4 linked regions of the Homo sapiens genome follow. The protein of the gene in region 3 purifies or fractionates together with the protein of the main gene of each other region. This does not show direct contact. Each region holds a gene or a part of one and is shown on either strand. Other genes may lie near its edges.

Region 1 (3,500 bases), on a different chromosome or scaffold from region 3:
CTCAGACAAGATCAAGCTTTTATATGAGACTACCATGTTTATTATAATACTGTTTTGTCATTTTTTCATTTAAAAGATAATAATGGCCAACAGATAGGTTCTATTCTTTGCATGTGTAACCATGTTTCATGTGTAATTTCCCTGAGTTAAATGTACTAAAACTGGGGCTCATCGAAGGTAAGTACCTTGCCTGAGGCTGTGACCCGGACCCTTGGCTCCAGAGGCCATAATTTTATTACTGTCTGGGGCTTCAGCGGCCCCTGAGCAGTTCCCTGCCTTCTCCACACTTCCTTCTCACTTACCAAGGGGTCTGTGTGCCCCTTCCAATTTGATGCTCTTGGAGGCTCAGGGCTGCACAGCCATACAGCGGCTGGGCCTCCCTGGGACCCGGTCTTTGGAATCAGGGCTCTTTACCCCTGCTACCTCCTGCTGTGGGGACAGACCAGGCTTTTGCAAGTCACCTGCCCAGGCCTCAGGCCAAGCACTCAGAGGACGCTGCCTGCAAGGGCTTTGGGGTTCATTGTGGGTTAAGTTTGAACCTAAAGCCAGGGTAGGATCTGGGAAATCAGGAAGTGGGGAGCTGGGCCAGGCCTGAAGGAAGACTCAGTGATCCATGGAGCCTGCCAGGCCACCCATCCCTGCTGCCGGGGCAAACCACAAGCAGCCCACAGGGAGGAGCCCCAAGTGTCTGAACCACAGAACGATGTGGGGTCCCAGGCTGCATCTGCTCCAGGACCTGCTGGGGGCCAGCTTGCTGGCTGGACCTGCAGTTACCACTGCATGAGAGATGGGCATGCTGACCAGCTCATGGATGTCCACAGGGCTGGAAAGGGCAGATGACTTCGCCAGCTAGGGTGTTCACTGATAGAACCCAGTGACAATCCTTGTGAGAATGCCCCTAAGAAAAGAAAACAGAAGGGTGGCTTCCAAGGCTCAGGGAGGTAAGCTTGAAGTCACACTGCGAGAAAATGAACTTGGCAGCCGGGTGCGGTGGCTCACGCCTGTAATCCCAGCACTTTGGGAGGCCAAGGTGGGCGGATCATGAGGTCAGGATTTTGAGACCATCCTGGCCAACATGGTGAAACCCCATCTCTACTAAAAATGCAAAAATTAGCTGGGCCTGGTGGCAGGTGCCTATAATCCCAGCACTCAGGAGGCTGAGGCAGGAGAATCGCTTCAACCCAGGAGGCGGAGGTTGCAGTGAGTTGAGATCGTGCCACTGTACTCCAGCCTGGGTGACAGAGCAAGACTCTGTCTCGGGGAGAAAAAAAAAAAAAAGAAAAAAAGAAAATGCACTTGGCTGGGATTCCAGCCCAGTTCTGACTGGCTCCAGACCCCACGCTCTTAAACTGGACATCATCAGCATTTTAAAAATCCAGAAAAAAAATTTAAACAGGACTCCTGGCCTCCTCTCCTGAGCCTGACTGCCCTCCGTGGACAGGAACGGTGTGGGGATGGGGTGAGAGAGCCGAGGCTGCAGAGCAGACCTGTACACGCCCCCGGCCTCACAGCCTCCTCGCCAGCCAGTGGCATCTGGGCAGGCTCTGGTCTCAGCCAGAAGGAGCCTCTCCCAAGCCTCTGTGCCTGCCCCGCCCTGGCGCCCATGACCTCTGCTTCCAAGCTGTGAGGACGCCCTCTGCTGTCATCTGCAGCTGGACACCAGCCTGGAAGCGTTTGGTCCTGCTCTTCCTTTCCCAGCCAGGGCAAACCTCCTTTAGATGGGCAACCTGGCCCTCTGGCCTCTCTGTGCTGGCCGAGCCTCATGCAAGGAGACGGCTGTGGAGGGTGGGCAAGGTGTGGGAGAACTGCTTAACAACCCAGTCGGGAAGGCTGACTGTGCACCTGCTGTCCATCCCACCTAGCCACTGTTCCAGGAGCTGGGGATGGGGCAGTCGACACAGCCCCACCTTCCCAGGGCCTGTGTTCCAAGTGAGTGTGCACACGTGTGTGAGGTGGTAAACAGAAGAGTCAGAGAGATGATATGTCAGGAGGTAGTGTGAGAGAACGAATCAGGCTATTAGTGATGGGGGAGAGCTGCTGGGGGCTGCTATTTGATGCAGGGTGGTTGGGGAAGGCGTCTGGATAGGGGAGACTGAGGGGAATGAGGGAGCAAGTGGGCCTCGAGTGGCCCAGTGGAAACACTGGCAGGCATGGCGGCAGGAAGCACACGTGGAGGGGCCAGGTGGTGGGTGAGGCTGGGGAAGGTGGTGGAGGTGAGGGTGGCCAGAGTCCGGCTGGGGCAAGCAGGCCCTTGAGGTCATTGTCAGGGCTTGAGCTTTTGCTCTGAGTGAGATGGGAGCCCCTCGAGGGTTCTGGCCAGAAGCATGTTGACAACGGCCCTGTTGCTGCCATGAGAGCAGGTCAGCGGGTGGGGCCTGCAGAGCTGCTGTCGTCACCAGATGGCACTGGCACAGTGGGGGTGGCTGTGGAGGGTGTGAGTGGTCAGAATCTGATGTACCTGCCAGGGGAGCTGCATCTGCTGGTGGCCTCGGTGTGGGATACAGGAGGACGAGCAGAAGTAGAGATACCTCCACGTGGTGGAATGAGACACATTTAGAGGGAGGGAGGAGCACACAGAGCAGCTTCTAGTGGGAGGATGGGAGCCAGGGGTTCCACGGGCTCATGTTAACTTGAGACTCATTTGATGTCCAAACAGGCACTGAGTAGGCAGAAGTCAGGAGGGAGGGCTGGGCTGGCGATATGAATTTGAGAGTTGTCCAAGTGTACAAGGTGTTTAAAACGAGACAGGAGAAGGTCACCAGGCACCAGGCCTTGAGAGGAGGTGCTTCTGGGATGGAGCTTGGGGACGGGATACAGCAGCCCCCAGCAGACCTCCCCCATCACCAGTTGCCTGGGTGGGTGGGCAGGAGGCATCGAGGGAGTCTGGAAAGGGCGGCCCGAGAGGAGGCGGGGGCTGGGAGTGAAAGGAGGTACCAGGTACTAGGGGACTGAACCCTGAACCCTGAGTGGGAGGAGGCTGATGGAGCAGCCCCCAGGATAGGACTGGGCTATGAGCCATCTCAGCAGGCGGAGGAGCAAGAGCTCGATAGGAGTGGGGTCAAGAGAGAAGGTGAGGAGAGGAAACGTCGGACGCCAGCATGGACAACTCAGTGGGGAACTGGATTTGAGGAAAGCCAATGCCAACCAGGCCCCAGAGCACCTTTCACAGCCCCTGGTTGGATGTGCCCAGGGTTTCTGGGACCTGCCTCTAGGTAGTTATCCAGAAGGGAGAGCCAGCCCTGTTCACAGAGGCCGGGGTGCACCAAGAGCCTGCTCAGGAGCCTGTGCCCTGGTCCCTCCCCTGTAAAGGGCTGGGCAGAGAAGTGCTTTGGTGGTTGGGGCATTAGGGTGTCAATGGCACCCCCTGGAAGCACGTGCTGTGGCAGCCCTGTGAGTCCTCCCTCTCCTTTCCAGCACAACAAACCTACTCTGATCTGCTTTCTATACTGGGCCCAAGACTTTGTCAGAAGCTGAGGTCTAACTGCTAAGACAGGAAATGT
Region 2 (3,500 bases), about 72 Mb from region 3:
CCTGACCCCAATGATCTACCCGCCTCGGCCTCCCAAAGTGCTGGGATTACAGGCATGAGCCAAAGCGACTGGTCAGCAGTATCAAAATATTAAATGCATATACCCTTTAATATCATTAAATATACATGGTAATTACATGTCTAGGAATACATCTAATACAATGCCTAGGCAAATGTTGTGTTCATCACATTGTTTGTAAGAGTGAAAAATGGGAAATAATATAAGTGTCTAATCTCTCACACAGGTATTAAGTGAAAAAATAAGTCACAGAAGAGGTTGCATGATCTCATTTATGTTGAAACAAAAGTAACACGTGCATGCACATGTGAAAATATGCAGGAAGGCTGGGCAAGGTGGCTCATGCCTGTAATCCCAGCCCTTTGGGAAGCCGAAGCGGGTGGATCACTTAAGGTCAGGAGTTCGTGACCAGCCTGGCCAACATGGTGAAATCCTATCTCTACTAAAAATACAAAAATCAGCTGAGCATAGTGGTGCACGCCTGTAATCCCAGCTACTCAGGAGGCCGAGGCAGGAGAATCGCTTGAACCCAGGGGGCAGAGACTGCAGTGAGCTGGTATCGCGCCACTGCACTCCAGCTTGGGCGACAGAGCCAGACTCCATCTCAAAAACCAAACCAAACCAAAACAAAACAAACGAACAAACAAAACTTCCTTCCATGACTGCCCTGTGTGCCTGTGATATTAGCACATGGGACCCTGTGAGATCAGGTGCCACTGACTCCCAGCTTCTCCTCTGACTGCTCCTCCTCACTCAGTAACAACAATATGTCCTGGTGGTTCCCAAACACCCTGAGCTATTTCTGTCTTCTGTGCCTGGACTGTTCTGCATTTTCTTTATCTTGTATAGTTCCATGAGGATCAGCAAGTGTATGTTCCCACGCAATCACCAGTCCTATCAAAATATAGGACATTTTTATCGTCCTGGAATGTTCCCTCGTGTGCCCCACTATAGGCAATCATTTCCCCATACCCTGCCACAGGCAACTGCTGATCTGATTTCCATCACTGTGGATTGGTTTTGGCTGTTTTAGAAGTTTATAGCCAGGTGCAGTGGCTCAAGCCTGTAATCCCAGCACTTTGGGAGGCCGAGGTGGGCAGATCACGAAGTCAGGAGATCGAGACCATCCTGGCCAACATGGTGAAACCCTGGCTCTACTAAAAATACAAAAATTAGCTGGACATGGTGGCATATGCCTGTAATCCTAGCTACTCAGGAGGCTGAGGCAGAAGAATCACTTGAACCGGGGAGTCAGAGGTTGCAGTGAGGTGGGATCCTGCCACTGCACTCCAGCCTGGTGACAGAGACAGACTCCATCTCAAAAAAAAAAAAAAAAAACCAAAACAAAAATTAGCTGGGTGTGGTGGCATGCACCTGTGATCCCAGCTACTTGGGAGGCTGAGGCAGGAGAATCCCTTGAACCTGGGAGGCTGAGGTTGCAGTGAGCTGAGATTGTGCCACTGCACGCTAGCCTGGGCAACAAGAGCGAAACTCTGCCTTAAAAAAAAAAAAGTATATAGGCCAGGCACTGTCGCTCATGCCTGCAATCCAGCACTTTGGGGAGGCCGAGGCAGGATGATCCCTTGAGCCCAGGAGTTCGAGACCACACCCGTCTAATTTTTAAAATTTTTTGTAAAAAAAAATGTTTTTAATTAGCCGGGTGTGGTGGCATGTGTCTGTAGTCTCAGCTACTTGGGAGGCTGAGGCAGGAGGATGATTTGAGCCTGGGAGGTTGAAGTTGCCGTGAGCCATGATCACACTACTGCACTACACGCCTGGTGACAGAGCAAGACACTGTCTCCAACAAAAACCAACAAAATTAATATTGTGTCAGTCTCTGATTTAAAGCAAAACTACCTGAGGGTCACCACCTCCTGGAAACCTGTCCTGATATCCCTGCTGGGCCAGGTACTTCCTGTCTGTGCGTGTCACCTTCTACCTATCACCAGTACGGCAAGTTCACATTGTTTCACGATTTGATCACCTACTTCCCTAACCCAGAGAGGACTGTGTGTTACTGCCAGCACTGCTAGGTGCTTAGAAAAATGTTTATTAAGGCTGGGCACGGTGGCTCACGCCTGTAATCCCAGCACTTCGGGAGGCCGAGGCGGGCGGATCACCCGAGGTCAGGAGTTCGAGAAGAGCCTGGCCAACATGGTGAAACCCCCGTCTCTACTAAAAATACAAAAATTAGCCAGGTGTGGTGGTGGGCGCCTGTAATCCCGGCTACTCGGGAGGCTGAGGCAGAAGAATCGCTTGAACCTGGGAGGCGGAGGTTGCAGTGAGCCGAGATCAACAGAACAAAACTCTCTCTCAAAAAAAAAAAAAAAAAAAAAGAAAAGAAAATGTTTATTAAATGAAGGACTAAATCAGAGAGATTTGAGAAGATCATGGAGAACAGAGAGGGTCAGTATTGTAGAGAGGGGTTTAAAAGGTTATAGGAGGTTAGAGAGGTCAAGGGTCAGAAGAGATGACCAAGTTTGGGGGTCAGAAAGGTCGGCGCGAAATCAGAGAGATCAATGTGGTTAAAGATGTCAAAGGTCAGGAAGATTAAAGAAGTCACGGGGCGGGTCATTGAGGTCAGGAGGGTTCAGATGAGAAAAGAGAGGATGAAGGACTCAGAGATTACACAGGGGGTCAAGAAAGCCACAGACAAGCTCAGAAGGGATGTCAGTGTCTCACCACCGGGCCAAGGTCCCAGGCCGGGGTGGGGCGTAGCTGTCATGCCGGTGCAGCTGTAGGAAGTCTCTGCCTGGGCCCTGTGCCAGCTCAGTGATCTCTTGGGCCCACCACCGTGCCTGCCGGTAGCTGCTGCACTTGAGAATCAAGGACCTGGATGGGAACGATGAGATGTCCATAAATCCTCGCCCTCCATACCTGTGATCTTGCCTAGAGACCTCCCCTTTCCCACTTCCTCCCTTAGTCCCTAATCACAACTGCACAGGGATAGGGCGTGTATGTATCTGCCTTATTTATTTATTTATTTTTGAGACAGAGTTTAGCTCTTGTCCCCCAGGCTGGAGTGCAGTGGTGCGATCTCTGCTCACTGCAACCTCTGCACCCCAGCTTCAAGCGATTCTCCTGCCTCAGCCTCCCAAATAGCTGGGATTACAGGCACGCACCACCACGCCCGGCTAATTTTTGTATTTTTAGTAGAGACAAGGTTTTAGCATGTTGGCTGGGCTGGTCTCGAACTCCTGACCTCAGGTGATCCACCCGCCTCGGCCTCCCAAAGTGCTGGGATTGTAGGTGTGAGCCACCGCGCCCGGCCATATCCACCTTACTCATAGTTGGATCCTAGTATTGCATCAGCAACCAGTATTGTACCAGGCACTCGGGTTTGTTGAATGAACAAATGAACAAATGGAATTTCGTTTATGTCAGCAGTTCCCTTCCCAGGCTTCTACTAATCCCCTTTCTCTGGGCCCAGTCTAAGAGCAGTCCCAAGCATCTGGCTAGACCAGTTCCTGGTTCAAAACTAT
Region 3 (3,500 bases):
TTGAATCCCAGCAGCGAAGGTTGCAGTGAGCCAAGATCGAGCCACTGCACCCCAGCCTGGGCAACAGAGCAAGACTCTGTCCTTAAAAAAAAAAAAAAAAAAAAGTTACTAAGGTAGAGCGTTAACAATAGATGAATCCTGTTAAAGGATATTCAGATGTTCATTGTACTATTTTTATTTTTGCAATTTCTTTTTTTGTTTTGGTTTTTTGGTTTTTTTGAGACAGAATCTTGCTCTGTGGCCCAGGCTGGAGTGCAGTGGTGTGATCTGGATTCACTGCAACCTCCCACTTCAGCCTCCCAAGTAGCTGGGACGACAGGCATACGCCACTACACCTGGCTAATTTTTTTGTACTTTTTTTGTAGAGATGGGGTTTTGCCATGTTGCCCAGGCTGGTCTCAAACTCCTGAACTCAAGCGATCTGCCCACCTCAGCTCCCCAAAGTGCTAGAATTATAGGCGTGAGCACTGTGCCTGGCCTATTTTCGCAATTTCTTATCAATTTGAAATTATTTTTTTCAAAAAAGCAGGTTGCCTACAGAAAGTGAGTTTCTTCCCAGGTAGTCTACAGGCAGACACTAAACAAGCACTTACCAGAGAAGACAACCCTGCACTGACTCACCATGGCTAAGCTTCGCCCGCCATTTACATACCCATAACTCCCAACATCAACCTCCAGCCCACGAGTCCCTCCTGAGCATCAGCCTGCATTTCCCACTGGACACTTCTCTACTTGGGTGCCTCTCTGGTACTTAGAGGTGTTCAAAATCCCATTCAGCAGATTTCCTCAAACCCCATCTCCTACAGCATTCTCTCTGCCCAGGTTACTCTGATCAACCTGGTCATCATTCTAGACATCTCTCCTCACACCACCACGCAACTGGTTACTAAGTTCTGCTGAAACCATGTTCTCATTATTCATTCAACACATTTAACTCATTTATTGGATGCCCAATATAGACCTTGTCCTGCTCCAGGTGTTGGCAATAAGGCAGGGGCCAAAAAGCAAAAACAAACAAACCCTCCAAAGTCCGCTTTACCCATGGTGCTTACCACTGCCTGACATACAAAGATTTCTGTTTTTATTGTCTGTATTCTTCCTCAAGAATATAAGCTCTATATGGGCAGGTATTTTTGTCTATTTTGTTGACATGACAGATTACAATAAACCTTTGTTGAAGTTCCTCATATCTAACACAATATTCAATATACTGCAAGTGCTGAACAAATCTTTGTTGAACAAAGAATAACTCGTGGAGCATAATAAAAATACATATTTGGTCTTTGCTGCTAGTTCTTGGCACAGAAATCCTAAAAGGCCTGGAATTTCCTCAGTGATACGAGGGACATTAGTTATTCAGAAAGAGCCACTTTCAACCATACTGAAGTTTACGCTAAGGGGGCAACCCTTGGGGAGAGAGGGGTTGGCCTAGGATAGAGCTTCAGGATGAGGCTGGTTCCCAGAAAGACCAAGCCCTGAGGGCTAGAACTTCCAGGCCCCTTTCACTCCCACTTCAGGGAGGGAAGGCTGGAGATTAAATCAATCACCAATGGCCAATGATTGTTTTTTTGTTGTTGTTAGAGACAGGGTCTCCTTATGTTGTCCAGGCTGATCTCGAACTCCTGGGCTCAAGTGATCCTCCCACCTCGGCCTCCCAAAGTGAATGAGCCACTGCACCCGGCCATGTGGCCAATGATTTAATCAAGCATGCCTATGTAACAGGATCTCCATAAATCCCCCTAAACAGGGTTGGAGGAGCTTCTGGAGTGGTGAGCCCAAAATCCATGGAGACAGAGGCTCCTGCACTTAGGGACCCTTTCAGACCCCACCCTTTGCACCTCCTCATCAGGCTGCTCATCTGTATCCTTTATAATAAACTCTAATAGTCAGGAGAGCATTTTCCTGAGTTCTGTGAGTTGCTCTAGCAAATTATCAAACATGAAGGGGGAAGAGGGCTATGGGAACCTCCAAATTTGTACCCAAGTCAGAGAGGTGTGCCTGAGAGGCCTATGGACCCAGACTGTCTGTCTGTAGGACTGAACCCTTAAACCTGTGGAATCTGACACTAACTTTGGAGAGTTAAGTGTTAGAACAGGATTGAGCTGTTGGACACCCAGTTGGTGACAGGGAATCAGAGAACCAGAGTCAGGAATTCCAAGACTTTCTAAATATTTTAGGAGGAAAAGTCGGGAGACATTGTATGTTTTCTTACACAGGGTTTCCATCTGTGAATTATTTTGCAAATGTTTTATAATTTAGTTATATTAGAATAGCAATAATAGGCCGGGCATGGTGGCTCACACCTGTAATCCCAGCACTTTGGGAGGCCGAGGTGGGCGGATCATGAGGTCAGGAGATCGAGACCATCCTGGCTAATGCGGTGAAACCCCGTCTCTACTAAAAATACAAAAAAATTAGCCGGGCATAGTGGCGGGCGCCTGTAGTCCCAGCTACTCGGGAGGCTGAGGCAGAAGAATGGCGTGAACCCGGGAGGCGGAGCTTGCAGTGAGCTGAGATCGCACCACTGCACTCCAACTCTAGCCTCGGCGACAGAGCGAGACTCTGTCTGGAAAAAAAAAAAAAAAAAGAAAAAGAATAGCAATAATAGAAAAATAAAAACACACGTTTGGGTAAAAATAAGTAGAAAAAACAGAAATTCAAGGACAAAGGTGAAGCACACTTAAAATTTCTATTTTACCTATAATAAACTGATATTTTTAATGCAAACGCTTTTTTTTAAAACCAACCTAAAATTTCTCCAATGCCGATGAAAATGCCAGAAAGTCCAATAAGGCTTTTCTCTTCTGCTCCAAATTTATTTGTAGCACCAATACAGGTTCCATATACACCAGAGAAGAAAGTTAATTCCAGACCTTTAGTTAAAGAAAAAAAACAGATGTCATTTATATATTCACATTTTTGTTTATCTTCCCATCTAGTAGTATCTGACGAAAGAATACTTGCGTAGTAAAACACATAAAACTCACAGAGACTGAAATATTAATCCCCAAGCAGAGCATAATGTGATGTAACTGATGAAATGGAATTAGCTTCATGCTATGGACTAAATGTTTGTGTCCTCCCCAGATTCACATATTGAAACTCAAATTCCCCAAAACATGATGGTATTTGGAGATGGGGCCTTTTGGAGGCAATTAGGCCATGAGGGTGGAGCCCTCTCGATGTGATTAGTGCCCTTATAAATAGAGACAACAAAAAGCTTGCTTCCTGTCTGCTCTCTGCCATGGGAGGACACAGCAAGAAGGCAGCTGTCTACAACCAGGAACAGCCCACACCACAAGCTGCGCATGGTGGCATCCTGCTCTCAGACTTCCCAGCCTCCAGAACTGTGAGAAATAAGTGTCTGTTGTTTAAGCCACACAGTCTATGGAAATTTGTTATAGCAGCTAAAATTAAGATACCACAAGACGGCATCTGCCATATATTTCAGGTAAAAGTATACAACTCAAATGAACAGATATCCTTATGTTAAAACCTAT
Region 4 (2,407 bases), on a different chromosome or scaffold from region 3:
AGCACGTGTTTGCCTGGTTCACACCTGTCCCCATATTGGGTCTGCAGCTAGCCAGGGGGGCAGGGCCCTGTCCGGTTTAGGAGGAGATTATGGCACTCTTCCCTGCCCACGCCTCTCTCCCAGTCCTCTCCATCTCAGGAAGCCAGTGAGGGAGGCAGCCCTAGCCCGGGGGAGGGGTGGAGCCTGCTGGTGTTCCTGGAAGTCACCGGGGTCAAATCCAAGGGCACTTGGGGGTGATCATTAACCCGAGGCAGCCAGGGAACCTCCAGGGGGCCAGCAGGTAGGCTGGGGACTGGCAGCAGGAAGGGAGGGGGCCAGCAGGTAGGCTGGGGACTGGGAGCAGGGAGGGAGGGGGCCAGCAGGTAGGCTGGGGACTGGCAGCAGGAAGGGAGGAGGCCAGCAGGTAGGCTGGGGACTGGCAGCAGGGAGGGAGGAGGCCAGCAGGTAGGCTGGGGACTGGGAGCAGGGAGGGAGGGGGCCAGCAGGTAGGCTGGGGACTGGCAGCAGGGAGGGAGGGGGCCAGCAGGTAGGCTGGGGACCGGGAGCAGGGACGGAAAAGCTGTGGGTCTCCTGGCTGAAGCTGCACTGCGGCCACCCCCAGCCACCCCATCACAGCCGCCCGTCTCCCCTCTGCTCTCCCAGAGCTGATCCAGCCCTCACTCTGCCCCCAAAGGGAAGTGACATCAGCCCCAGGCTGGGCAGGTGTGCCCCGCACCTGGGCAGGGCTGGGATCAGAGCCCAAGGATGCTCACCCAGCCCAGCGCCTCCGGGGCTCCCCAGGCCTCACGGCCTTAGCTGGGAGCCTCTGGAAGGAGGGCCCCCTCCCCACCACCTTGCACAGGGCCAGGCACTGGGGGCCACTAGTGGCCAGTGTGAGGGAAGGAGCTGAGACCCCTGCCCTGAGCGAGACCCCACCCAGATGGGTAAAAGCTCCTTCTCCTGACGCAACTCTTCCCAGCACAGCGGCAGAGGCAGGACAGGTGCTGGGGGAATGGCTATACCCTGGCCTCTCCCAGACACCCTAGGATGCACTGCACCCCTGGAGGCTGGGGACCAGGAAGTCCAGAGTCTGGAGGCGCTGCTTACAATGAGCTCCACCCACCCTGAGCTCTGGTCTGGCCTGATACTACACCAAAAGCCTGGCTTGTCCAGACCCACTGCCCATGCCCTGAAGCCCACCCCAGCCAGGCACAGGCCCAGAAATGAGCCTCCTGAGAGCTCTGCAGCAGAGGCGAGCGGCCCGGCTCCCCACCCCTCTACCTGCCCAGCCTCGCAGGCCAAGCACTGGGTGCCCACCAAGGGCAGCTGGTCACTCTGGGCTCTGTGTGGGCAAAAGGCCCAAGGGGCTGCCCTCCCTGGTCGGTCAGGGGGCAAGTGCAGGAAGGGGCAAGGAGGCCCTGTCCCCAACTCAGTGGGAGGAGTCCCTTGTGTGTCAAGGGTCCTCAGCTCGGCTGGTGGTCACCTGCTGCCTTAAGCCAGCCTGACCCCGCCTCCCCAGCCTGCACCCACCCAGGGAGGGCTGGGCTCAGCCTACCTGTGCCTGGACTGCCAGGTAGAAGGCGCCCTTCTTAAAAGGCAGCAGGTCCCCATTGTCGTTGCGAGTACCCTCGGGATAGATCCACACTTTGAGCTGCAGGGAGAGGAGAGCCTGGACTGACCTCACGCCCAGGCCACCCCAGAAAGGCCACGCCGCCTCGCCTCCTAAGAAGCCCCACTTCGCAAAGCAGCTGGCATGGGACCCCATCTGCGGAGCATGGATGATGTAGGGGTCTGGCGTGGGACCCCACCTGCGGAGCATGGATGATGTGGGGGTCTTGTTTTTTCTGCCAAAACCAAGTCACAAGCTGGCCCCTGCCTGGCCCCGCCCAGGCCCCACCCCAACCCCACCGAGCCCGGCCCTGCACACTCACGTTCTCCCTGACCATGCGCTCGCCCAGGTCGGCCATCACTGTCATGGCAGTGCTAGAGCGCTGCCGGTTGATGAAGAAGACGCCCCCGAGGTACATGATGAGGCCCACGGGCCCCAGGAAGAGCAGCTCCCGCTTGGCGATCTGCACGCAGCGCTCCGGAAGGACCTCCATGAGGCCTGGGAGACAGAGAGACAGAGACAGAGAGAGAGGGGGAGACAGCGTGCGCTGGAAGACAGCTGCTGAGCACCCACAGGCCTGCCTGGCACCCTGCCTTCTCCCTGGCTACCTGGACGGGTCGTGTGGCCTCCGAGCCTCTGTGTCTGGCCCTGAGGGAGGTACTGAGGCCGAGCTCGCCCAGGCACAGGCAGCCCTGTGTCCTCGTCCCCGGGACCCAGCCCCACACAGCCCCAGCTCAGCCGGCCCCACTCAAACCCCAGAAGCCACCCCCGAGGCCCGGCCTACCCATCATGTCCAGGATGCTCTGGTGGTTGGAGACG

The links. The genes of interacting proteins can lie anywhere in the genome.
Region 1: the proteins of MFSD11 (region 3) and GNAO1 purify together in Homo sapiens (affinity purification with mass spectrometry; one large-scale study listed by BioGRID and IntAct). This does not show direct contact.
Region 2: the proteins of MFSD11 (region 3) and PLD2 purify together in Homo sapiens (affinity purification with mass spectrometry; one large-scale study listed by BioGRID and IntAct). This does not show direct contact.
Region 4: the proteins of MFSD11 (region 3) and AGPAT2 purify together in Homo sapiens (affinity purification with mass spectrometry; one large-scale study listed by BioGRID and IntAct). This does not show direct contact.

The regions. Positions count from the first base shown.
Region 1 is NC_000016.10:56,330,989-56,334,488, reverse strand, and holds part of GNAO1 (guanine nucleotide-binding protein G(o) subunit alpha), read right to left. Parts: intron 1-3,500. UniProt on the Homo sapiens protein: Guanine nucleotide-binding proteins (G proteins) function as transducers downstream of G protein-coupled receptors (GPCRs) in numerous signaling cascades.
Region 2 is NC_000017.11:4,810,152-4,813,651, reverse strand, and holds part of PLD2 (phospholipase D2), read right to left. Parts: intron 2,851-3,500; coding exon 2,701-2,850; intron 1-2,700.
Region 3 is NC_000017.11:76,769,119-76,772,618, reverse strand, and holds part of MFSD11 (UNC93-like protein MFSD11), read right to left. Parts: intron 2,874-3,500; coding exon 2,748-2,873; intron 1-2,747.
Region 4 is NC_000009.12:136,675,051-136,677,457, forward strand, and holds part of AGPAT2 (1-acyl-sn-glycerol-3-phosphate acyltransferase beta), read right to left. Parts: coding exon 2,373-2,407; intron 2,087-2,372; coding exon 1,911-2,086; intron 1,631-1,910; coding exon 1,535-1,630; intron 1-1,534. UniProt on the Homo sapiens protein: Converts 1-acyl-sn-glycerol-3-phosphate (lysophosphatidic acid or LPA) into 1,2-diacyl-sn-glycerol-3-phosphate (phosphatidic acid or PA) by incorporating an acyl moiety at the sn-2 position of the glycerol backbone.